7 linked regions of the Homo sapiens genome follow. Changing the gene in region 4 together with the main gene of any one other region gives a genetic interaction. Each region holds a gene or a part of one and is shown on either strand. Other genes may lie near its edges. The genes, in order: UBA2, SPOUT1, PSMD1, BDP1, ADAT2, GEMIN2 and EIF3C.

The links.
Region 1: changes in BDP1 (region 4) and UBA2 together harm fitness less than expected from each alone (positive genetic interaction), as found in Homo sapiens cells (one large-scale study listed by BioGRID).
Region 2: changes in BDP1 (region 4) and SPOUT1 together harm fitness less than expected from each alone (positive genetic interaction), as found in Homo sapiens cells (one large-scale study listed by BioGRID).
Region 3: changes in BDP1 (region 4) and PSMD1 together harm fitness less than expected from each alone (positive genetic interaction), as found in Homo sapiens cells (one large-scale study listed by BioGRID).
Region 5: changes in BDP1 (region 4) and ADAT2 together harm fitness less than expected from each alone (positive genetic interaction), as found in Homo sapiens cells (one large-scale study listed by BioGRID).
Region 6: changes in BDP1 (region 4) and GEMIN2 together harm fitness less than expected from each alone (positive genetic interaction), as found in Homo sapiens cells (one large-scale study listed by BioGRID).
Region 7: changes in BDP1 (region 4) and EIF3C together harm fitness less than expected from each alone (positive genetic interaction), as found in Homo sapiens cells (one large-scale study listed by BioGRID).

Annotation. Positions count from the first base shown.
Region 1 is NC_000019.10:34,438,381-34,441,880, forward strand, and holds part of UBA2 (SUMO-activating enzyme subunit 2), read left to right. Parts: intron 1-264; coding exon 265-386; intron 387-3,500. UniProt on the Homo sapiens protein: The heterodimer acts as an E1 ligase for SUMO1, SUMO2, SUMO3, and probably SUMO4. It mediates ATP-dependent activation of SUMO proteins followed by formation of a thioester bond between a SUMO protein and a conserved active site cysteine residue on UBA2/SAE2.
Region 2 is NC_000009.12:128,823,295-128,826,794, forward strand, and holds part of SPOUT1 (28S rRNA (uridine-N(3))-methyltransferase), read right to left. Parts: intron 3,336-3,500; coding exon 3,246-3,335; intron 3,140-3,245; coding exon 3,090-3,139; intron 2,859-3,089; coding exon 2,728-2,858; intron 1,756-2,727; coding exon 1,683-1,755; intron 1,576-1,682; coding exon 1,477-1,575; intron 881-1,476; coding exon 778-880; intron 601-777; coding exon 453-600; intron 1-452. Other genes in the region: KYAT1-SPOUT1 (uncharacterized protein LOC127739546), read right to left, coding at 453-600, 778-880, 1,477-1,575, 1,683-1,755, 2,728-2,858, 3,090-3,139, 3,246-3,335. UniProt on the Homo sapiens protein: S-adenosyl-L-methionine-dependent methyltransferase that specifically methylates the N3 position of a uridine in 28S rRNA. Required for association of the centrosomes with the poles of the bipolar mitotic spindle during metaphase.
Region 3 is NC_000002.12:231,070,367-231,073,866, reverse strand, and holds part of PSMD1 (26S proteasome non-ATPase regulatory subunit 1), read right to left. Parts: intron 1,679-3,500; coding exon 1,452-1,678; intron 1-1,451. UniProt on the Homo sapiens protein: Component of the 26S proteasome, a multiprotein complex involved in the ATP-dependent degradation of ubiquitinated proteins.
Region 4 is NC_000005.10:71,563,651-71,565,985, forward strand, and holds part of BDP1 (transcription factor TFIIIB component B'' homolog), read left to right. Parts: exon of another isoform or gene 1-1,103; coding exon 1,104-1,235; 3' UTR 1,236-2,335. UniProt on the Homo sapiens protein: General activator of RNA polymerase III transcription. Requires for transcription from all three types of polymerase III promoters. Requires for transcription of genes with internal promoter elements and with promoter elements upstream of the initiation site.
Region 5 is NC_000006.12:143,444,196-143,447,695, reverse strand, and holds part of ADAT2 (tRNA-specific adenosine deaminase 2), read left to right. Parts: intron 1-797; coding exon of another isoform or gene 798-861; intron 862-2,726; coding exon of another isoform or gene 2,727-2,768; exon of another isoform or gene 2,769-3,500. UniProt on the Homo sapiens protein: Probably participates in deamination of adenosine-34 to inosine in many tRNAs.
Region 6 is NC_000014.9:39,127,823-39,131,322, forward strand, and holds part of GEMIN2 (gem-associated protein 2), read left to right. Parts: intron 1-457; coding exon 458-526; intron 527-3,500. UniProt on the Homo sapiens protein: The SMN complex catalyzes the assembly of small nuclear ribonucleoproteins (snRNPs), the building blocks of the spliceosome, and thereby plays an important role in the splicing of cellular pre-mRNAs.
Region 7 is NC_000016.10:28,717,964-28,721,463, forward strand, and holds part of EIF3C (eukaryotic translation initiation factor 3 subunit C), read left to right. Parts: intron 1-312; exon of another isoform or gene 313-3,069; intron 3,070-3,500. UniProt on the Homo sapiens protein: Component of the eukaryotic translation initiation factor 3 (eIF-3) complex, which is required for several steps in the initiation of protein synthesis.

The sequences.
Region 1 (3,500 bases), on a different chromosome or scaffold from region 4:
AGTAATTTTTATTTGGGCTTGTAAGTCATGTTCACTGAACCAGGAGTCGGCGTCCTGGCACAGCCTTAGCTATGACTGGTAGATTCAGTTAGCTTTTGTGTTAGTTTATCATAAAGTAAGCATTTTGGAGTCACTAATATTTTAAAATTTCCTTGACAACGTAAAACGTAGTTGGAATATAGATGAATGAAGTGTTTATATTACCTTATAATGTTGAGAAACTGCCATCATGGAGTAAATTTTTCTCATATCCTGACTTCATAGGGTGTGACCGAGTGTTATGAGTGTCATCCTAAGCCGACCCAGAGAACCTTTCCTGGCTGTACAATTCGTAACACACCTTCAGAACCTATACATTGCATCGTTTGGGCAAAGTACTTGTTCAAGTAAGAGTGTATATTTCTTGGCATGCTTTTCGGTACTGATGATGGAAAATGGAGTCATTTTTATTTAATTACCTTGAAGAGATTGAACTCAGGATGTTTAAATATGGTGAAGGGATGCTTTAGTAGCTTTCTTGCAGTATTTCTTAGGTTAAATGTAGCTGGCCGGGTGCGGTGGCTCACACCTGTAATCCCGGCACTTTGGGAAACTGAGGTGGTCGGATCACCTGAGCGCAGGAGTTTGAGACCAGCGTGGCCAGCATGGTGAAACACATCTCTACTAAAAATACAAAAATTAGTTGGCCGTGATGGCGAGTGCCTGTAATCCCAGCTACTCGGGAGGCTGAGGCAAGAGAATTGCTTGAACCCAGGAGGTGGAGGTTGGAGTGAGCCGAGATCGCGCCACTGCACTCCAGCTTGGCAACAGAGTGAGAATTTGTCTCAAAAAAAAAAAAAAAAAATGTGGCCATGACTGTTCAGGAAACTTAGTCTTATATTGGAGACAGCCATGTAACTAAGCGATAAAAATCTTTATATTTGGAAATGTGAACATTTACTTACAAATAACCCATTGGTTATAAAAGAAATCACAATGGAAGTTAAAAATACTCTGTACTGATAATGATGAAAATGCTATACCAGAATGTATTGAATGTGGTGGTTGGCAAAAAGTTACAGATTTACATACATGAAGAAAGGCTGAACATTAATTACTAAATCTTTACTAAGAATCCAATTTAAGTTAGAAAATGAACCACAGAATACACTTTAAGAAATGAGAATGGTGTGGGCATGGTGGCTCATGCCTCTAATCCCAGCACTGTGGGAGGGTGAGATGGGAGGATCCCTTGAGCCCAGGAGTTTGAGACCAGCCTGGGAAACATGGCAAAACCGTGTCTCTACAAAAAATAGAAAAATGAGCCAGGTGTACCTGTACTCCCAGCTACTTGGGAGGCCGAGGTAGGAGGATCAGTTGAGCCTGGGAGGTTGAGGCTGCAGTGAACCGAGATAGTGCCACTGCACTCCAGCCTGGGTGATAGTGAGATCCTGTCTTAAAATGAAGAAAGAAAGAAAAAAAGAATGAGAAGGAAGGATATTAATTGAAGTAAGAGCACATTTGATTACAAAATAGAAGAGGAGTAAGTGAGAACTAAACGGGGAATACAGATAGCAGAGATTAAATAGGCTATAAGAAAAAAAAGGGATGATAATAAGACCATGGTAGTACATAAAAAATTTAAATGATCTGGGTAAATACATTTTTAAAAACTTACTAAGTGCCCAGTGCGGTGGCTCAGGCCTGCAATCCCAGCACTTTGGGAGGCTGAGGTGGGTGGGTCACTTGAGGCCAGGAGTTTGAGAACAGCCTGGCCAACATGGCGAAACCCCGTCTCTACTATAAATACAAAAATTAACCAGGCGTGGTGGTGGGCATCTGTAGTCCCAGCTACTTGGGAGACTGAGCCATGAGAATCACTTGAACCCAGTGGGTGGAGATTGGGCCACTGCACTCCAGCCTGGGGGACAGCATGAGATGATGTTTCAAAAAAAAAAAAAAAATGAAAGGAAAATAGAATGCCTGAATTTAGCAGTATACCTTAGAGCAATGTAAGTAGTTTAAATTATTCTAAATAATGCACCGAACCTATGTTATTTTTACAGATTCATTTCACAAAACTTGCAAGGAGTATATTGTAATATTAGCTAAACTCTCCCTGAGAAATTTTTAAAAGGGAATACTACTTAGCTTGTGTTATTAGGCTAGCAATGTCTTTGATAGCAAAACCTGTCAAGGCCATTATGGCATAAGAAACAATTGCTAGTCAGTCTCACACCTAAATAATAGATGCAAAAATCCTATGTAAAATATTAGCATATCCTGGGAATGGGCGCAGTGTATCATGCCTGTAATCTCAGCACTTGGAAGCTGAAGCGGGTGGATCACCTGAGGTCAGGAGTTCAAGACCAACTTGGCCAATATGGCGAAATCCTGTCTCTATTAAAAATACAAAATTAGCCGGACATGGTGGTGGGCGCCTATAATCCCAGCTACTTGGGAGGCTGAGGCAGGAGAATTGCTTGAACCCGGGAGGTGGAGGCTGCAGTGAGCCGAGATCGCTCTGCTGCGCTCCAGCCTGGGCAACAGAGCAAGACTCCATCTCAAAAAAAAAAAAAAAAAAATTACCATATGGATCTAGAATCATATAAAATAAAAAGTGTGTCTTGACCACGTGTCTATTCAGGAATACAAGCATGGTTTAAACTAGAAAATCTGTAAATGTCATTCACTCATTAGGAAATTAAAGATAAACTATATAGTTTTCATAGATACAGAGAAAGCATTTGGTAAAATTTAGCAAATGGCCTTTCATGATGAAAGTTTCTACTAAAACAGAATAAAAACTTACTAGGCCGGGCGAGGTGGCTCACGCCTGTAATCCCAGCACTTTGGGAGGCTGAGGCGAGCGGATCACGAGGTCAGGAGATCGAGACCATCCTGGCTAACACGGTGAAACCCCATCTCTACTACAAATAAAAAAAATTAGCCGGATGTGGTGGTGGGTGCCTGTAGTCCCAGCTGCTCAGGAGGCTGAGGCAGGAGAATGGCGTGAACCCGGGAGGCGGAGGTTGCAGTGAGCTGAGATTGCACCACTGCACTCCAGCCTGGGCGACAGAGCGATACTCCGTCTCAAAAAAATAAAAAATAAATAAATAGATAAAATTAAAAATAAAAAAACTTCTTACTAAAATGAGAATGTTCTCAACCCGATAAAGGGTATTTTGTAGAAACCTTCAGCAAACATTGTCTTTAATTTTTGCACTCAGAAAAGTATACATAACAGTGTCAACTTGATAAATGTTCACAAAAACTACACTTGGAAGCTTTATTTATTTGGCAAACATTTTTTTTCTTTGGGAGGCTGAGGTGGGTGAATCACTTGAGGCCAGGAGTTTGAGAACTGCCTGGGCAACATGGCGAAACCCTGTCTCTACTAAAAATACAAAAATTAGTGGGGTGTGGTGGCACACGCCTGTAGTCCCACCTACTCGGGAGGCTGAGCCATGAGAGCCGCTTGAACCTGGGAGGCGGAGGTTGAAGTGAATGGAGATCATGCT
Region 2 (3,500 bases), on a different chromosome or scaffold from region 4:
CCTATGCCTGACCCCAAAAGTGGGTACACAGGTTCCATGAGGCCAGGACGAAGGCTCCAGCTGCACGTGGCTTCCCCCGTGGGACAGATGCAAGTGAGACCCCAAGGGGAGAGCTGCTGTGCCCACCGTGGTCACACACAAGGAAGTGGCAGAACCAGGGCCCTGGGAGATCACTGAGCGCACGGCTAAGGAACCAGAGGCCCGGAGCAGGGGTGGGCAGGGCCCCCTGGGTCACCCAGTCTGGGAGCACAGGACGGGCACTAGCACCCATGGTTGACTCCCAGCTACACTCATGTCTCGTCGCTGTGGCAAGAGGCCAAGGGGGATGAGAGGACCACCTCCAGACAAGGCAGCCACGGGCAAGGGTGGGTGACAGGGCAAGAGTAGCACCCGCCCCTCGGACAGATCCCAAGGCCCCAGTGGCTGGCAGTCGGGGAGGCAGGCGGGCTCACCTCCGTGCGGATGGTACGGCTACCCTGGCCAGGACAGGTATTGACGTACAGGTCAAAGAGGACACTGGGTTCAGCCACCTCCAGGTTGGGGTCAGCATCCGCTCCAGCTTCCAGACCCTGGAGGCCCCCGAACACCACAAGAGCATGCCTGGCCCATGTAAGAGGGGGTCACCTGAGCGGCCACCGAGGCCCCACCCAGCACAGCGCCCAGACCTCAGTCCCTCCCCACCCCAGACAGCAGGGGCCCATCTGTGCAGCTTCACCCACCAGGCAGGTTCCTGGCCACATTCCTCCTGCCCTGGCCGCAGCCCCAGGAGGTACACACCTGAAGTTGGGAAGCTGGGCAGAGGCCACATCTGAGCCGCGCTCTGACGTCCCGATGGTCAGGTCATACCCATCTTGGAAGGGGGCCTCAGCAAACACAGCACCTGGGGGTGGGGCCAGCTCAGTGCAGGTCCTGCTCCCCACAAGCCATAGCTCCGGGTATTATGTGTGTGTGTACTGAGGCGGGGGTGGGTGGGAAGAGCTGTGTGGTGTGTGTGTGTGTGTGTGTGCGTGTGTGTACTAAGGTAGGGGTGGGTGGGTAGAGCTCTGCCTGTGTGTGCATTGAGGCAGGGGTGTGTGTGTACCGAGCAGGGGTGGGTAGAGCTGTTCCTGGAAAGTCAAGGACTGAGCAGGGCAGACACCAAGCCTGTGCTTGGCTGGGGAACAGGGCAGAGACTGGATAGGAAGAGGCACCAAGAACATGAAGTGGGCCTCTGACTTCTCTGGCCCTTTTGCCTCCATTCCCAACCCTACAGAAACATTATTGATCAATAATGATACTTTTGCTCAGTAGTCCTTAACAGCATTCCAGGCAGTGCATCCAGGGAGAACAAGGCCCAGAGAAGGGGAAGGACTTGCCCAAGGACACACAGCAAGTTGACAGGACAAAAACCCTGGTCTGATATTTGGGTCAGGCAAGGCTCCCGGCCACCTCCCAGAGGGATGGATGGATATTCAGAGAAGTAAGGTCTGTCCTTACTGAGGCAGGAAGCCAGTCGGACGGTGTAGCCCCAGTAGAGACCAGCTTTGGTGCGAGGGTCCTGCGATGATACCACTTTGCCATGGTAGGTCTTGCAGTCTGGAGGGGTAACAGAGTCTGTAAAGATGGGGTGAGGGAATGGAAGCAGGTGGCTGAACCCTGGAGCTCATCAGGCCAACCCAGGGGTTGGGGAACCTTCCAGATACCTGGGTGCTGCTGCTGGTTCAGTCGCACAGTCACCCGAAGCCCGGGCTCCAGGTTCTTGTCAATCTTCACCTCCTGGGGAGAAGCCAGAAGAAATGGGTGCCATTCCTCTCAAGATCAGCAGGGGCCACGGCTCTTCCAGATGCCACCAGGGGAGCCCCGGGGCTGGCAAGGGACCAAGGGGTCCAGGTCAACCTGCCACCCTCCACCCCTGGCACCGGCTGAACCTGCTCACAAGAGATCATTTGTGCAAAACACAGGTCACTGGCCAAACATGCACCTTTGGGGCGCTCATGGCACAGGATAGAAGTAGATGAAACTCAGTTTTCTACATTTTGGTAGCTCTGCAACTTTTTTTTCTTTTTTTTCTTTTTTAAGATGGAGTCTGGCTCTCTCACCCAGGCTGGAGTGCAGTGGCACGATCTCAGCTCACTGCAACCTCTGTCTCCTGGGTTCAAGTGAATCTCCTGCCTTAGCCTCCCGAGTAGCTGGGATTATAGATGCGTGCCACCACACCTGGATCATTTTTGTACTTTTATTAGAGACAGGGTTTCACCATATTGGCCAGGTTGGTCTCAAACTCCTGACCTCAAATGACCCGCCTGCCTCAGCCTCCCAAAGTGCTGGGGTTACAGGCGTGAGCCACTGCGCTTGGGTTGTGCTTTCTGACAGGAAGGGACTCCATACATGTAAAGGTTTCTGCCTCTGATTTGAGGAGGCTTGAGGATAAAGAGGCGGCAAATTAATGCCCTCATCCCAGCTTGGCTCTGTGCCACATGGGAGCAGCTCCAGAGTGACTTTCAACTTGTTTCTGCAGGGTTTTGTTTGGAGCATGAGGACTGTCTTCTGTTGATTTGCTTTTTAAGCAACAGTAAATTCATTCCTGGCTTTATCTATTGAGCCCCATTTTGCACAATTCTCTGGCCCAAATTTGCATCAGTGAGGGATTTCGGGCAGGTCCAGGGCTCTCCGCAACATCCATCTGCTTGCCCTCCATTGCCAGGGTGTGTCCTGGAGGTGTGTCCTAGCCCATCTTTCTGTTCCTACCTTTTTCATGCCACAGTTGACAAAGGAGCCGTGGCCTGGCCGGGTGGGCCGATCCACCACGATGCCCTCTCGGAACTCGGATTCCTCATCCTGACGCATGTGGTGGGGGCTGTCCAGGGGGTTCAGGAGCCCTGTGGAGGCAGAGCCGGGAAGAGTCTGGGAAGTGCTAGGGCACACAGGGTGCAGTGGGGACCCTGGAGCGGAGTACCGGCTCTGCCACAGACCTGCGTCTTGGCATCAGACACAGGTCTTGCTCTCCCAGGCCTGCTTTCCCACCTGGACAGCGCAGGGTAGGACTGGGTGGTCTCAGTGTCTGTGGCATGATCCAGGGGAAATGGGGGGGCGGGCCCATACAGCGTTACCTGCAAACTGTAGATCCTGGTGCTTGGGGAAGAACGCCTTCCTCAGGTACCTAGGAAAGAATGCTGACCTCAGGATGTTCCCAGGGGAAGCCGCCTCCTACCTGGTCTCCACTTTGACACACCCCTCCCTCATGCTTAGGGGAGTGACCCCCTTACTGTGGACACTCCAGGTACTGCAGGATCCGGGCCAGCTGTACGCACGCCTGCCCCTTCTTCCCAACTCCTGTGAATTCCCCCTCCACAGTCCTGGAGAGAGAGAGATGGGGGCTCAGGATCCAGCTGTGGCCCCTTCAAGAGCTCCTGTCTACAAGTGCACGCGTATAATCCCAGCTACTCAGGAGGCTAAGGTGGGAGGATCATCTGAGTGCAGCAAGTAGAGGCTGCAGTGAGCCATGACCATGCCACTGCATG
Region 3 (3,500 bases), on a different chromosome or scaffold from region 4:
TGATTTTATCAAGGTCATAGGATTCAATGTTAGTATATAAAAATCAATTATATTTCTATATACTACCAACAAAAAAAATAGAAATTTAAAAATACCACTTCACAACAGCATCAAAAAACAAATTATACTTAGGGATATAAGAACATTAATTTAAGAAAAGATGTGTAAAACCTCTGCACTGAATCTACAAAACACTACTGAGAAAAAAATAAAAAACCTAAGTAAATGAAAAAGATCACCATATTCCTGGATTACAAGATTCAATATTATCGGGATTTCAATGTGCCCCAAATTGAAGATATTCAATACAATCCCAATCAGAACACCCACAGACTTATATAATGCAAAAAATCTACAATAGCCCAAAGAATCTTGAAAAAGAAAAAAGAATCAAAATTGTAGGTCTTACAATACCTGACTGCAAGACTTAGCATAGTTTTAGTAATAAGGAAAGAGGTAGTGATATAAAGAAAAATATAGGCATACCTTTGTTTTACTGCCCTTCAAGGAAGTCTATTGGAGCCACTTCTCCAATAGTATGTGATCACTTTGTCCTTGTGTTACATTTTAGTTATCCTTGCAATATTTAAAACTTTTTAATTATCGTTATATCTGTTATGGTAATCTGTCATCAGTGATCTTTGATGTTACCATTGTAGTTGTTTTGGGACACCACGAACCACACCCATATAAAACAGCAAACTCAATCAATAAATGTGTGTGTTCTGACTGCTCCACACACCGGTCATTCCCCCATCTCTCTCCTTCTCCTTGGGACTCCCTATTCCCTGAGACACAACAATATTGAAATTAGGCCAATTAATAACCCTACAATGGCCTCTGAGTGCTTAAGTGAAAGAGAGAGTCCCACATTTCTCAGACACAGATATCCAGTGAAAGAGCGGGCTAGGGGGCTGCCGGCATATACAGGCACAACTAAGACACACAAATGTTTTTAGTAAGTGATCTAAACGTGTAAAATACAGAAAAATAAAATTTTAATACCATATCAATTTGTACAGAATGCAAATTTCTAATACTATAGAAATTTGTGTATTTAGTTCTAATAAAAGCATAAAAAGCTGAGAATGTTCTTTACTTTCTAAATATCTAACCCAGATATATCTAACCCAAATATCTAAAAGGTAGCCCCAACCTATCCCCACCTGTTTTTTTAAATTTACTTGATTAAATAGTACACATGTTGTCTGGTAGGCCCTCCCTACGAGATAATCACTTCTATTTCTTTCCAGAAGGGTCAATTTCTTCGGTTTTCCTTACTACACCCAGCACAGTACAAAACAGAGCAACAGCCTAATAAGACTTTACAATCTATGAAAGCTAGTGGCAAAATTTATTCTTAGAATATGCTTCCTATAAATATTCTACCTGTCCCCAAAATGAAATAAAGATTATTCAATTAGTTTTGATGCAGAAAAAGGTACTTATACCTGTCTTTCTCTGATCCCGGAACAGTACCCGTATTAGTGGATCCAGGCACAGAAGCAATAGGGGTGCCAACAGTTCGAAGATTCTGGATTACAGATGACAAAAACTGCTGGCTAGCACTTTCATACAAATCAAAACAAATCTGATATGCCATCAGGAGGTTGTCTTCCTTTACCAGTTTCTCTAAGATATCACTCACAGCCTGAGGATCATCTAAGAAAATTAAGCACTGAAATGGAGATAAAGAACAATTATTCAATAATTAAAAACTTCATCTACAAGGTACTTAAGGAGACAAAATCAACATTATAGAAAACCTTAAAATATAAGCACAGGCAAACTAGGGCAGACTATCCAGTCTAGCACTCTATTTCTAAACCCAGCACTAGATGAAATTTTTCTAAACATGGCATCTGTCTTCCATAAAAAAATTCATACAAATTATATTTATAACTCTTAATGCTGTGCCTGGTAATCAGCAGTATTCAACATTGGTTGTTGAATGAATCTTGGCTTCTTTAAATCTTATCCATAAGTTATACCTAAGTGCTCCTTAATTTGTTATTTTCTCCCTTACCATATATTATGGAAGTTACTCATTCATTTAACATACATTGTGTTGTGTTGGGCCAGGACAAGAGACATTAAAATTACCATTTTGAAGCATTTCTCTTACTACTCTTATGATCTGCCATTGTTTTAACAAAATTATCCAACAAAGTTAGAATTTTTCTTTTAAAAACTCAATTTAAATTTTCTTGTTCCCTTAGGCAGCAAGTAACTCAACTTCAAAATAAACACATTAATCAAAGTTATTATAAATTAAGAACACGAAATAACACAAACAAAATAAGTGGTCAACAATAGGGGAATGATTAAGTAGGGCAAAGTACATACACTGAATGATTACAACAATCAAGTAAGAGGACTCTATGAAGAATTAGAACATGGAAAAATGTTAAAGACTGTATACAATTAACACTGTTTATCCACAGAGAAAAGAACTTGGTAGCTGGAGCCAAGTAATAGGAAGACTTCATTGTATACCCCATCATTCTTTTTGAATTTTAAATCACATGAACATATTATCTGCTCAAAAATATATTATTTTAAAAATGAGCAATAAAGTTTTTAAAAATAATAAAAAGATAAGGAATAAAACAGCTGAAAGAAATAAAATTGCCTCTAAGGAATAAAACTGAAATACAGACAGGAAGAGGGCAGGGAACTACTATTTTTCATGTCAGTTTTAAAAAAAACTATGAAAAATATTTACAAACAACAAAACTCCGAAAACCTATGTAGAGAAAACTGAAAGGAAATACACTATTAAATACTAAATTGACTTTGGGTGATGTAAAAAATCAAGTTAGAATAGTAAGTTGACTTTGGGTGATTTAAACATGGATATTTTTTCTTCTAGTATTTTGTTTCAAACTTGCTTTAAAAGGGATTGTAAAAAACAGTGTTTTAATCTAAATTTTCAAAGTCTAGAGGATTAAAATACACAGGAGCACATTTTAATGAAGAAACAATAAAATGTGCAATAAAATGCTATGCCCTGAGCAGAATACAAAAAATGTATACAACATAGCAATTGTTAAAAAGTAAACCCATGCACACCTCCAGTCAATAAAATACAATACAGTCATTAAAAGAATGCAGTAGATCCACATGTGTGAATAAGTAGGGAAAAACATCTATGTCTTACCTTTGGGAAAAAGCCCAAATGATGGGAAAGAGAAGCCTTACTTTTCATTTTATATATTTTCTGTACCATCTGAATTTTTTTTTATGTGCAAGCAAATTTATATATAGAAAGAGATAAAGAAAAGATACCCAAATGTTTTGGTGTGTATGGGTAATGAAACCATATATAATTTATACACTTTGAATTCTCTTTAGAATGATATAGTATAGCATAGGCACTGTTTTAATCTTCTAGCTTTTTAAAAAACCTTCGTTATTTCTAAAAATTTCCTTAAATTATTGGATTTTCAAAATGAAAAAAGAATACAAAGAAAGAATGTGTTACAACAAAATAGCTTTTT
Region 4 (2,335 bases):
GCCTGTAATCCCAGCACTTTGGGAGGCCAAGGCGGGCAGATCACCTGAGGTGAGGAGTTTGAGACCAGCCTGGCCAACATGGCAAAACCCCATCTCTACCAAAATACAAAATTTAATCAGGCACGGTGGTGTGTGCCTGTAGTCCCAGCTACTTGGGAGGCTGAGATAAGAGAATTGCTTGAACCCGGGAGGTGGAGGTTGCAGTGGGCTGAGATCATGCCATTGCATTCCAGCCTGGCTTTGTCTTAAAATAAATAAATAAATAAAAAGGTACCCTTCCCCACCTACCTCCGTCCAGAATTATAAAAGTGTTTTTCCATGGCATTTTTATAGTAGAGTTTTTTAAAAAATACTTTTACATTTAAATCTTTTGATCCATCTAGAATTTGTTTTGGTAAGGTATTGGTCTGACTTTTTTCCCCCTGAGATGGTTATATAGTTGTCCAACATCATTTATTTAATAATACAATAACTGTTTTTGATATGGCACTTTTATCAGATGCTAAATTTCTATATATATTGGGGTTATTTCTAGTCTTCTGTTTCATTGATATATCTGTCATTCGTGTGCCAATACCATGCTGTCTTAATTTGTTTATAGATTTGTAAGTATGCTAATTTCTGATAAGGTATCTTTGATATGTTTTCTTTAGGTGCTGTTTTGTCATGGGTCTGTCTATTATGCAAATAATTAAAGTATTTTTACTTTATTTAGTGACAGATTTAACCATATTATATTTTTCTTTATTAAAATTTTTCATGGAAATTAGGATGAAGTAATGGATTATGGGTACACTGTAATTTACCTAATTATATCTAGTGTGGTATATTTAGTTGCTTCCTATTTTATTATTATAACTAATGCTACAAAGGTTATCTTAGTCATAAAACTCCTACTATGTTTAGGATTATTTACTTAATGTAACAGCATAGAAGTGAAATTTTTGGGTCAGTGATTGTGAACATATTTAAAGCTCAATATTTATTGCCACGTTGCTTTTCAAACAGATCATATTGGTTTAGACTGCTATATATACACACACATATATATATAAATGTTGTATTACAGTTTTATTTTTACTTTATTTTTATTACCTTTTTAGGTTTCTTGTGATCAGCCCTTACTGAAAGAAGGATATAAAAGTGCCCAAAAGCGGGCCCCTCAAGGGGAGGCAACCACAGTCTCTGAATATTTCTTCAATGATATCTTCATTGAAGTGGATGAAACAGAATAAAACAATCTTTTCTCTTTTTCTTTTTTAAATTAGGTCTAGGATTTCCAGAGTCAATTACATCAACAAAACAGTATTTAGAGCAAAATATCACTGTCTTATTTTTCTTTAGGTTGATTTTGAATACTTAATGAGCTTGATTTGAAGCTTTTATAATCAGTGGAAAACATTTCTGAGGTTCCTTTCATTCTGACTGATTCAGCATTTTGCAAATAGCAAGCAATTAAGACTGCTTTCTCAGACAGAAATAACAACTCTTGTTTACATTTTGACTCTTCCTGTGCTAAGCACACATGGACATTTGGGAATGTTGTGGATATATGTCTCTGTATGAATTGCAGTGCAGACAGATTTGGGGGTTAATTGTATCATATTTAACATTTAGCAACTTCTTTTGTGAAGATTTTTTATTTTTAGGGGGAGATGATGAAGGATGAAGGCTTTTTCATTTGCTTCTAAGTACAGTCATGTATCACATAATGAAGTTTAAGTCAATGATGGACCACATATATTACAGTGGTCCCATGCAATTAAAATGGAGATAAATTCCTATCAACTAGTGACATTATAGCCATCATAACACAGTGCATTGCTTTTTTATGTTTAGATATGTTTAGATACACAAATACTTACTATTGTGTTACAACTGCCTACAGTATTCAGCATAGTAACACATTGTAGAGGTTTGTAGCCGAGGAGCAATAGGCTATACCACATAGCCTCAGTCTGTACGGTGTGTAGCAGCCTGTACCATCTCAGTGTTTGTAAGTACACTCTGCGTTGTTTCACACAAGATCACCTAACAAGGCAATTCTTAGAACATGTAGTTAAGGGACACGTGACTATATGTGAAAACAAATTGTCAAACTTCACTTTAGTATGGCAAATGTTAAAGAACTTTTCTATTATCAGCTGTTTGTCTGACTGAAAAATACATATTTTTCTAATTCATGGTGATGTAACATTAGTCCTAATTGAAAAACTAGTATTTAAACATAATTATTTATAAAGATGACACATCAAAGGGCTTATTTATTTTTAAATTTTTTATTTAAAAGGATATTCAGTTTTAGCTATTTTTACCCCTCAGATTGTAGATAAAG
Region 5 (3,500 bases), on a different chromosome or scaffold from region 4:
CCTTTTTTTTTTTCCCAAAGTGAAAATATTTTAATGTTTTCTTTTTCTGGTTATGTAAATAATTCATGGTCATAAAAAATTCAAACTATAAAAAAGGGTTAACAAATTATGTAAAAATTACCTAAAAGTCCTACTATTAGAGATAATACTATTAGTATTTTGGGAGCATCCTTCCATATCTCTCTGTCCATATGTAAACAGCCATATGTACTTTTGCATAAATGGAATTATATGTTCTCTTTTTGATTATCAGCAGTTTTTTTTGGTAGTCTTAATATATTAGTCACTCCTCCCTACCTCATGGTATTTCTGTTGCTATGGAGTGACTACCTAAAATGGGACAAAGGATGTATGTGCTTTGAAATTATATAGATATTCCTGTATTGCCTTCTAAAACCATAATGCCTAATATCGTAGCCACTAACCACATGTGTCTATTTAAGTTTAAATTAATTAAGGTGAAATAAAATAAAATCTAGCTCCTCAGTTGTATTAGCCACATTTCAAGTAGTCAGCACCCACATATAACCACTGGCTACCGTATTGGACAGTACAGATCAAAGGACATTTCCATCACTACAAAAGGATCTGTTGGATAGCATATAAGGTTATCAACTTTACTGCTTTTTAATAAAACCATTATTTTTCATGGCAGGTTTCTTTCTGAGAGCTAAGCATAGCATCATCATAGGTTATCATTTTAATCATCATAACATGTTCAGCATAACATTCTAAAGATAGGCTTGGAAAAAAGAAGTATGACTAAGTAATAGTGTTGCACTCTTGGTGTGTTCCAGATACTATGCTATGCACAGTGTTTTCATGTGGGCCATGTTATAAGCCCCACAGAAGCCCTATCAGGTGAGTATTATTATGGTCCTCATTTTCAGATGGGATATTGAAGCTGAGAAAGTTCAGTAACTTCCCCAAAGTTAGAGAGCTGGGAAGGATGGGGCTGTGATTTGAGGCCTGTCATCTGCTGTTAAATACTGGCCTGGCCTGCCTCTCGGTGTTAGGTAGCTCACTGCTTGCCAACATATCCTCTGCTCTCTTTCTTCCTTTTCAGTTTCTTTACCTGAATACTGTGTATCTACTGTGTAATTTAATTGAACATTTAGATTTTTTTCTTCTGTGAATTGCCGAGGCATATACTTTCCCCAATTTTGTAATAGTTTGATTTAAAAAATCGCACTGTAGGAGCTCTTTGTATTTTACAGCTGTTTCTAGGAATAAATCACAAAGAAGCAATATAAATATTTATATAGAGAAGTTCTTTACTTGTTTATAATAGTGAAGAATTTGAATCACTTAAATGTCAAATAATAGGAGACTAGTTGGTTGAATCAGATATGTTCATAAGGAGAAATACTGTACAACCTTTACAAAATCATGTGATGAAAAAATATTACCCAATATAGGGAAAGGTTAACAATACATTTCTAAATGAAAAGGGCAGACTGCTGAACTGTATATACAGTGTAAATCTATTTGACTTTTTAAAAACTGTAAATATGTGTATGCAGGGCATAGGAAAAAACAGAAAAAACCCCCGTTGCTTCAGAATAACAGGGATTATATTTTGGGGTATTGGGATTCTTAGTGGGTTTTTTTTTTTTGATACATGAGGTTTTTTTTTTTTAATCGCTAAGTTCTCCACCTTGAACACATCTTACTTTATAATTAGGAAAAAAGAAAGATTGACTAACTATCTATACATATGTGTATAGAAAAAATGTTGCAAGTTTTCTAGAAAAAAGTCAATTGTATTTTTTTATAGTGTGCATTTTTGGGGCAATTGATATTAATATAACATTATGCTAGGCTCTGAGGGAAATTCGAAAAGAAAGCAAACACCACAGACACCATTTCAACAAATGTGGTATGATTAAGTTTTTGCTATGTGTTAGACCTTGTGCTGGGTGCATAGGCTGCAGAGGTGAGCAAGAGAAGCTTCGTAGTGCCTGGATCTAGTGCTTGCCTTCCAGGAACATACTGTTTAATTGATGAAATTAAGTCAGGCACAGATGAAAAGGTTGGTAAGTAACATGTCCAAAGACCACAAGAGACAGATATAAAGTGCTGTCAGATAACAGCTGGCAAGGTCCTTCAACACGTCCGTTGAGATAAATGATAGAATTCCTTCTAAATTTTAAGGGACCAAAAGGATGTGGGCTGGTGGAAAGGAAAGGTTGATCCAAGCAAAGATACTGTCATGTCCAAAGAAATCAAGAACTTTGTTTTGGGTTAGAAGGAGATCTATCTATCTATCTAGAACAGGGCTCCCTGACCTCAGGCTCAGGTTTAGGGGGATCTATGAACGCTGAAACTATATATAAAATATTATGTGCGTGTGCCTTTTTCAAGTGAGACAGTCCATAACTTTCATCAGTGTCTAAAAGGGGATTTCTGCTCTGAAAAGGTTAATAACCTAAATGAATAATGAAAAGTTAGGTTGGTTCGGTTGGCCAATGGGAGGGTGGGTGATAGTTGGGAGACCTTCAGTGCCATATTGAAGAATTTAAAGTTGATGGAATAAAAACATTATCACTTTTTAAATCCCCAAAGTTAAACTATATAACTGTTTCTGCTAATTACTCAGAGAGTAATCACTCAGAAGAGAGTAATTAGCAGAAACAGTTATATAGTTTAGCCTTTTGGACAGGATGATGTTCTACCTGAGAGTTCTGGCTAACTTGTTTGTTCCCCCTAATTTTTTGTCTTTATAGGAAATATTTCTTTAAGGACTCATCAAACTGTGTGCAAACAAGGTCTGTTTCCATCTCTCCCCCTTTTATCATGACATCACTAGAAAGCAGTTTATAGTAGTAATGTCTTTGGAGAAAATAATAAACTACGAAGTCTCTTCCATCTAGGTGCTTTCATTATCTGTATCTGGGCAGGCCCTGACTAGAGAAAAAAAAGAAATTATATTCAAGGACAAAATAGAGACCAGTGTTTGGGCTGGGAAGAACAGAGATTTTATTCTTTAATTTTGAAGGTTGATCATTTGTTACTTTATGAAAAACCTTGTAGCCATTTTTAAATAGTATCTGATCTTGGTCTTTCCCCCTAAAAAAGGCAAGAAAGGTTAAATTCAAAGCTACCTGCACAAATTTCAGACCCATTTTGCCTGAGCTTTTTTGCATTTGTGAAGAAGTGATCAGACTTGACAGTAGAGTTGTTGGGAGAGTTTGAAAGTATGATATGGGTATGGGGTGAAATTGATTTCCAGCTTAATTAAATCTATTGTGAACTTGTTAGTGAAGCAAATCTACATGTTAATTGTTGTAAAGGAGTTCCCCTCAACTCACTTCCATGGGGCTTTGTGTTATTCTCACCGCCCCCTCCCCTGCCTACCATTCCAGTTGCTTACCCACTCATCCTCAGCATGGCAGGCTCGGCCATTCCTCAACAATGACGTTATTTGTCCTTTTAAAATATTCCGATCGCTCATATTTGCTCTCTGTTTCGGACAGCAGTGGAAGGCATTTCAGGAAAAA
Region 6 (3,500 bases), on a different chromosome or scaffold from region 4:
ACTTTGGGAGGCCGAGGAGGGCGGATCACCTGAGGTCGAGAGTTCGACCAGCCTGACCAACATGCAGAAACCCTGTCTCTACTAAAAATACAAAAATTAGCCGGACGTGGTGGTGCACGCATGTAATCTCAGCTACTCAGGGGGCTGAGGCAGGAGAATTGCTTGAACCCGGGAGGCGGAGGTTGCAGTGAGCCAAGATCGCACCAGTGCGCTCCAGCCTGGGCAACAGAGTGAGACTCTATCTCAAAAAAAAAAAAAAAAAAAAAAAAAAGCCTCATTGGATAAGCCGCCTAATCAAACTAATTAGAGTCAAACAAATTAGCTTTCTTTGAAAGTTTAAAGAATGAGGCCATTTTTAACATCAGAGTTGCTTTCTAAATAAACTTAATGAAACTCATGTTGAATTCATGTTTTATTATTAATACAACTCTTCTCCACCCCCTCTTTTTTTTTTTAGGCAACAGTAACTAGTGTCTTGGAATATCTGAGTAATTGGTTTGGAGAAAGAGACTTTACTCCAGAATTGGTAGTATTGCATGTTTTTCTTTTCATAATGTAGGCAAAAATTAGACGTTTTGGGTCAACTGTGGGCCACATATACAATGGTGCTCCTATAGGATTATAATACTGTATTTTTACTGCACATTTTCTTTTTTTCTTTTCTTTTTTTTTTTTTTTTTTTTTTTGAGACAAGGTCTCGCTCTGTTACCCAGGCTGGGGTGCAGTATTACAATCATAGCTCACTGCAACCTTGATCTCCCCAGCTCAAGCAATCCTCCTGCCTCAATCTCCTGAGTAGCTGGGACTACAGGCGCATGCAGCCACGCCCAGTTTTTTTTGTTTTTTGTTTTTTGTTTTTTTTATTAGAGACAAGGTCTCACTGTGTTGTCCAGGCTGGTCTTGAACTGAGTCCAAATGATCCTGCCTCCTCACCCTCCCAAAATGCTGGGAATTACAGGCATGAGCCACCATGTGTGCGGCCTTTTGTGTTTTTTAAATAGAGACGAGGTCTCACCATGTTCCCCAGGCTGATCTCAGACTCCTAGGCTCAAGTGTTCTTCCCACCTTGGCCTCCCAAACTGTTTGGATTACAAGCATGAGCCACTGAGCCCGGCTCCTTTCCAGTATTTAAATATGTTTAGATCTGGCCAGGCACAGTGGCTCATGCCTGTAATCCCAACTACTAGGGAGGGCTGAGGCAGGAGGATCACCTAAGGCCAGGGAGGTTGAGGCTGCAGTGAGCCATGATTGTGCCACTGCACTGCACTCTAGCCTGAGTGACAGAGTGAGACCCTATCTTAAGAAATAAATATATGGTTTTTTTGGATGCACAAATGTTTACCATTATGTTACAGTTGCCTACAGTATTCAGTATAGTAATGTGCTATATAGGTTTGTAGCCTAGGAGCAATTGGCTATGCAATATAGTCTAGGTATAGTAGACTATACCATCTAGGTTTGTGTAAGTATACTCTATGATGTTCATCCAGGGTCAAAAATCACCTAACAATGCATTTCTCAGAATATATCTCCCTTCATTAAGTGATGCATGACTGTACTTGATGTGATGCTACGGTATTTATTTATTTTTTATTTATTTGTTTGTTTTGACATGGAATCTCCCTCTGTTGCCCAGGCTGGAGTGCAGTAGCGCGATCTCGGCTCACTGCAGCCTCCACCTCCTGGTTTCAAGTGATTCTCCTGCCTCAGCCTCCCAAGTAGCTGGGATTACAGGCACCTGCCACCACACCCAGCTAATTTTTGTATTTTTGTAGAGACAGGCTTTCTCCATGTTGGCCAGACTGGTCTTGAACTCATGACCTCAGGTGATCTGCCCGCCTCCACCTCTCAAAGTGTTGGAATTACAGGCGTGAGCCACTGCACCCAGCCAGTATTTATATTTATATTTATATTTGTATATGTGTGTGTGTGTGTATATACATATGTATAATCTGAACTATACTTGTTTGTAGTCAAATAAGAAACACTAGAATGTAAATCAACATACTACTTCCTTCATTGAGAAAGTCTTGGAGAAAAAAAGTCAATGAAAGAGTTGATGTATATCCTGGTACAAGGTACAAACTCCTTATCTCATTGCAGACAAGTTTGTTTTTTTTTTTTTTTTTTTTTTTTGAGATGGAGTCTCACTCTGTCACCCAGGCTGCAGTGCAGTGGTGCCATCTCGGCTCACTGCAACCTCTGCCTCCCAAGTTCAAGCAATCCTCCTGCCTCAGCCTCCTGAGTAGCTGGGACAAGTGTAGAGAATATTTAATTTAAATTAAATATTTAATTTAAATGCTAGCTTTACATAGTAAATGTATCCCTTAAAATTTGAGTCAAGTTGAAACATATAATTTTTTTTTATAGAAAAAGAATTCCACAATTTGTAAAAGAAACCTGGATTTGAATCTTTTTCTGTAAGAAAAAGTCTTAACTATTGATTTGAGTTTGCCTGAGGAACCCATTTAGTGTGTTGTATAAATTGCTATTTAAATTTTGTCCTAATATTTTTTAGGTTTCCCCGAAGTGATATGTTGCTTAGAATAAACAAAGTTGTATATACTACTGGTGGAAATACAAATTTGGTATAACCTTTCCAGGATACAATCTGGTGATCATATCTGAAAAACCTTGATGAATATACATACCCTTTGTCACCATTTTACTTGCAATACTTAATAAACTTTCCCCATGTTGTTAAATGAGATTAAACAAGGGAATGTTATTAAATACTCTAAACAAGACACTTAACATTCCCTTGTTAATCCCATTTAACTACAAGGGATGGCTGAGTGGGGTGGCTCACTCCTGTAATCCCAGCACTTAGGGAGGCCGAGGTGGGCGGATCACTTGAGGTCAGGAGTTCGACACCAGCCTGGCCAACATGGTGAAACCCCCATCTCTACTAAAAATACAAAAATTAGCTGAGCATGGTGGCGGGCGCCTGTTGTCCCAGCTACTCAGGAGGCTGAGGCAGGAGGATTGCTTGAACCTGGGAGGCAGAGGTTGCAGTGAGCCGAGATGGCACCACTGCACTCCAGCCTGGATGACAGAACGAGACTCCATCTCGAAAAAAAAAAGAAAAAGGACAAAAACAACATGGTAAACATTTTATTATGTATTATAAATAAAAAAGATGGCTACAAGATGATATTACAACTGATGAAATTGTATTGAAAAAAGGTTGTACAGCCGGGCATGGTGGCTCACGCCTGTAATCTCACCACTTTGGGAGGCTAAGGCAGGCAGATCACTTGAGGTCAGGAGTTCGAGACCAGCCTGAACAACATGGTGAAACCCGGTCTCTATTAAAAATACAAAATTAGCCGGGTGTGGTGGTACATGCCTGTAATTCCAGGTACTCAGGATGCTGAGACAGGAGAATTGCTTGAACCCGGGAGGCAGAGGTTGCAGTGAGCCGAGATCGCGCCATTGCACTCCAGCCTGGGCAACAAGAGTGAAACTCTGTCTCAAAAAAAAAGAAAGTTGTACATACG
Region 7 (3,500 bases), on a different chromosome or scaffold from region 4:
AAGGCAGGAGAATTGCTTGAACCCGGGAGGCGGAGGTTGCAGTGTGCCGAGATCGCGCCATTGCACTTCAGCTTTGGGCAACAGAGCAAGACTCCGTCTCAGGAAAAAAAAAAAAAAAAAAAAAAAAGAGTGTCTCTTAAGCACAGCTAGGTTTTTGGTTTGTTTTTTTTTTAATCTCATAAAATCTCTGCTTTTTTTTTCTTTTATTGTGATACATAACATTTCCCATTTTAACCATTTTCAGGTATACAAATCAGTGGCATTTAGTACGTTCACATTGTGCAATGACCGCCAGAACTTGATCTCTGCTTCTCTGGCAATTTAGTTCATTTACGTTTATTATAGTTATTTACATATATATGATGGTTATTTATATATGTGTCTACATAATTAGTTTTTATCAAGATGGGGTCTTGCCCTGTTGCCCAGGATGGTCTCGAACTCCTGGGCTCGAGTAACCCTTCTGCCTGGGCCTCCTAAAGTGCTGGGATTACAGGCGTGAGCCACTGCGCCCAGCCTATTGTGGTTATCAATGCATTTATTCTTACCATTTTATGGTATCTTATACTTTCTGTTTATCCTCTTTATTTTAAATTTTGTAATAGCTTTATTGAGGTGTACATGACATACAATAACTGCACTTGTTTAAAGTTTTTTTTTTTTTTTTTTTTTTTTGAGACAGAGTCTTGCACTGTCGCCCAGGCTGGAGTGCAGTGGCGCAATCTCGGCTCACTGCAAGCTCCACCTCCCGGGTTCACACCATTCTCCTGCCTCAGCCTCCTGAGTAGCTGGGACTACAGCCACCCGCCACCACGCCTGGCTAATTTTTTGTACTTTTAGTAGAGACAGGGTTTCACCATGTTAGCCAGGATGGTCTCGATCTCCTGACCTCGTGATCCACCCGCCTCGGCCTTCCACTAAGTGCTGGGATTACAGGCATGAGCCACCGCACCCAGCCTTAAAGTTAAATTTAATAAGTTGTGACATATGTTTACACCCATAGAACTCACCACAATCAAAACATAATATCCTAAAAATTTCACACCTAAACATTTCCACCTTCCCCTTTGTAATACTTCTCCCTGCCTCAGTTTCCTCACCCTATCCCTGGGCAACCACTAATTTGCTTTCTGTCACTAGGTAAGTTAGCATTTTCTAGAATTTTATGTAAATGGAATCAACGGTATATAATTTGGAGGGGGTAGTTTCTTTAATCATAATTATTTTGAAATTCATTCTGTCTTCTAAAGATTGGGCATCTCTAATTCCAAAGTCTGAAACTTCTGGAGCACCATAAGTGGACAATTCCACATCTGACCTCATGTGACAGGTTGCAGTCAAAACTTTGTTTCATGCACAAAATTATTTAAAATACTATGTAAAATTGCCATCAGGCTGTTTGTATAAGGTGTAGATGAAACACACAAATTTCATAGTTAGACTTGGAGCCCTTCCCAAGATACCCCATTATATATATGCAATTATTTGAAATTTGAAACACTTCTGGTTCTAAGCATTTCAGATAAGGGATATTCAGCCTGTATTTTATTTTTCTTTTATTTGTGTGTTTTTTGTTTTTGTTTTTGAGAAGGAGTCTCACTGTGTTGCCCCGGCTGGAATGCAGCGGTGCAATCCTGGCCCACTGCAACCTCTGCCTCCTGGGTTCAAGTGATTCTCAGGCCTCAGCCTCCTGGGTAGCTGGGACTACACGTGAGCACCACCACGCCCAGCTAATTTTTATATTTTTAGTAGAGATGAGGTTTCAGCATGTTGGCCAGGCTGGTCTTGAACTCCTGACCTTAGATGATTCGCTCGCCTCAGCCTCCCAGAGTACTGGGATTACAGGCATGAGCCACCACACCTAGCCTACATGTATTTTCTCATCCTCTTTTTTTTTTCCCCGTTTCTAGTTATATATATTTTCTTATTATTCATTTTGTTTTTTTCTGCTGGTTTGGGAGTTAGACGTGCTATGCTTTTAGAGGTTATTCTTGAATTTTTTTTTTTTTTTTTTTGAGACACTAGCCTGTTGCCGAGGCTAGAATGCAGTGAGTGGCGCAATCTCGGCTCACTGCAAGCTCCGCCTCCCGGGTTCACGCCATTCTCCTGCCTCAGCCTCCTGAGTAGCTGGGACTACAGGCACCTGCCACCATGCCCAGCTAAATTTTTTTGTATTTTTAGTAGAGACGGGGTTTCACTGTGTTAGCCAGGATGGTCTCGATCTCCTGACCTCGTGATCTGCCCACCTCAGCCTCCCAAAGTGCTGGAATTACAGGCGTGAACCACCGCACCCAGCCAAATTTTTTTTTGTTAACCTGTAAACTAACTTGTATACCTAATCAGAATAGTCTAAAATTAGTTGAATCAATGTTCTGAGGAAAACCCTTGAGAAAATAAAGTTAGAATTTCAAGTGTCAGAATCTTTTTGACATTGAGAGTTTGTGGCTTTGTAGTGTAGAAGAATAATTCACAGACACTATTTCACTTGTGTAACAAGGGAGACAGATTTTCAGATTAATTTCCAACCGAGCAAAAGCAGGATTTATATAGGAGAAAGAGGAACAAGGAGAGAGGGCAAAACCACAGAACAGTGGATTCTGTTTGCCCGTTTTTCTGTGTAAACTCTGATATTAACTCTCCTTGAGTATGCCACCCAGGGTTGGTGGATGCTCTAGAAAACACGATAGGCCCTCTGCCAGTAAGGGTTTTCAGCAACTCCAGATTCAGCCAGTCTAAATATACCCTTTCCATCATCAGCATTTCTCAGCCTTCATCTTTTGGTCAAAACAAGCTTGTAAAGGAGTGGGTTTATTCTCATGAGCTTCAGCCTCTTTGATGTGGGATAAGGCCATCTGTTGTCTTATGGTGATCTGAAGGTATTAGGGGGAAGTTCATCTATACCTGATGTCATGATTGACCTGTGAACTCTTTTTCTTTTTTTCTTTTTTTAGATGGAGTCTTGCTCTGTTGCCCAGGCTGGAGTGCAGTGGTGCAATCTCATCTCACTGCAACCTCCGCCTCCCTGGTTCAAGCAGTTCTCCTCAGCCTCCCAAGTAGCTGGGATTACAGGCACGTGCCACCACGCCTGGCTAATTTTTTGTATTTTTAGTAGAGACGGGGTTTCGCCGTGTTAGCCAGGATGGTCTCGATCTCCTTATCTCTTGATTGCCTGCCTCGGCTTCCCAAAGTGCTGGGATTACAGGCGTGAGCCACTGCGCCCAGCGACCTGTGAACTCTTACAGAGCTGCTGTCTACTTCTAAGAGTTACCTGATTCTGGAGGCGTTTTTTTGTTTTTGTTTTTGTTTTTTAAGTGAACCCCAGGATCTCTAGTGAGACTGAATGTCCGAGTTAGGATCCTAAGCAAGGGTATACATCTAGGGCTTTCCATCAGTAGTTGTGGTTGGGAAGGCATGGGAAAATGGTGTGGTCCTCTGCAGTGTAGTTAGGCCTGACTTCCGTTGGTGTCTCTCAATAATGAGTTTTTAGTCTCTTAACTATG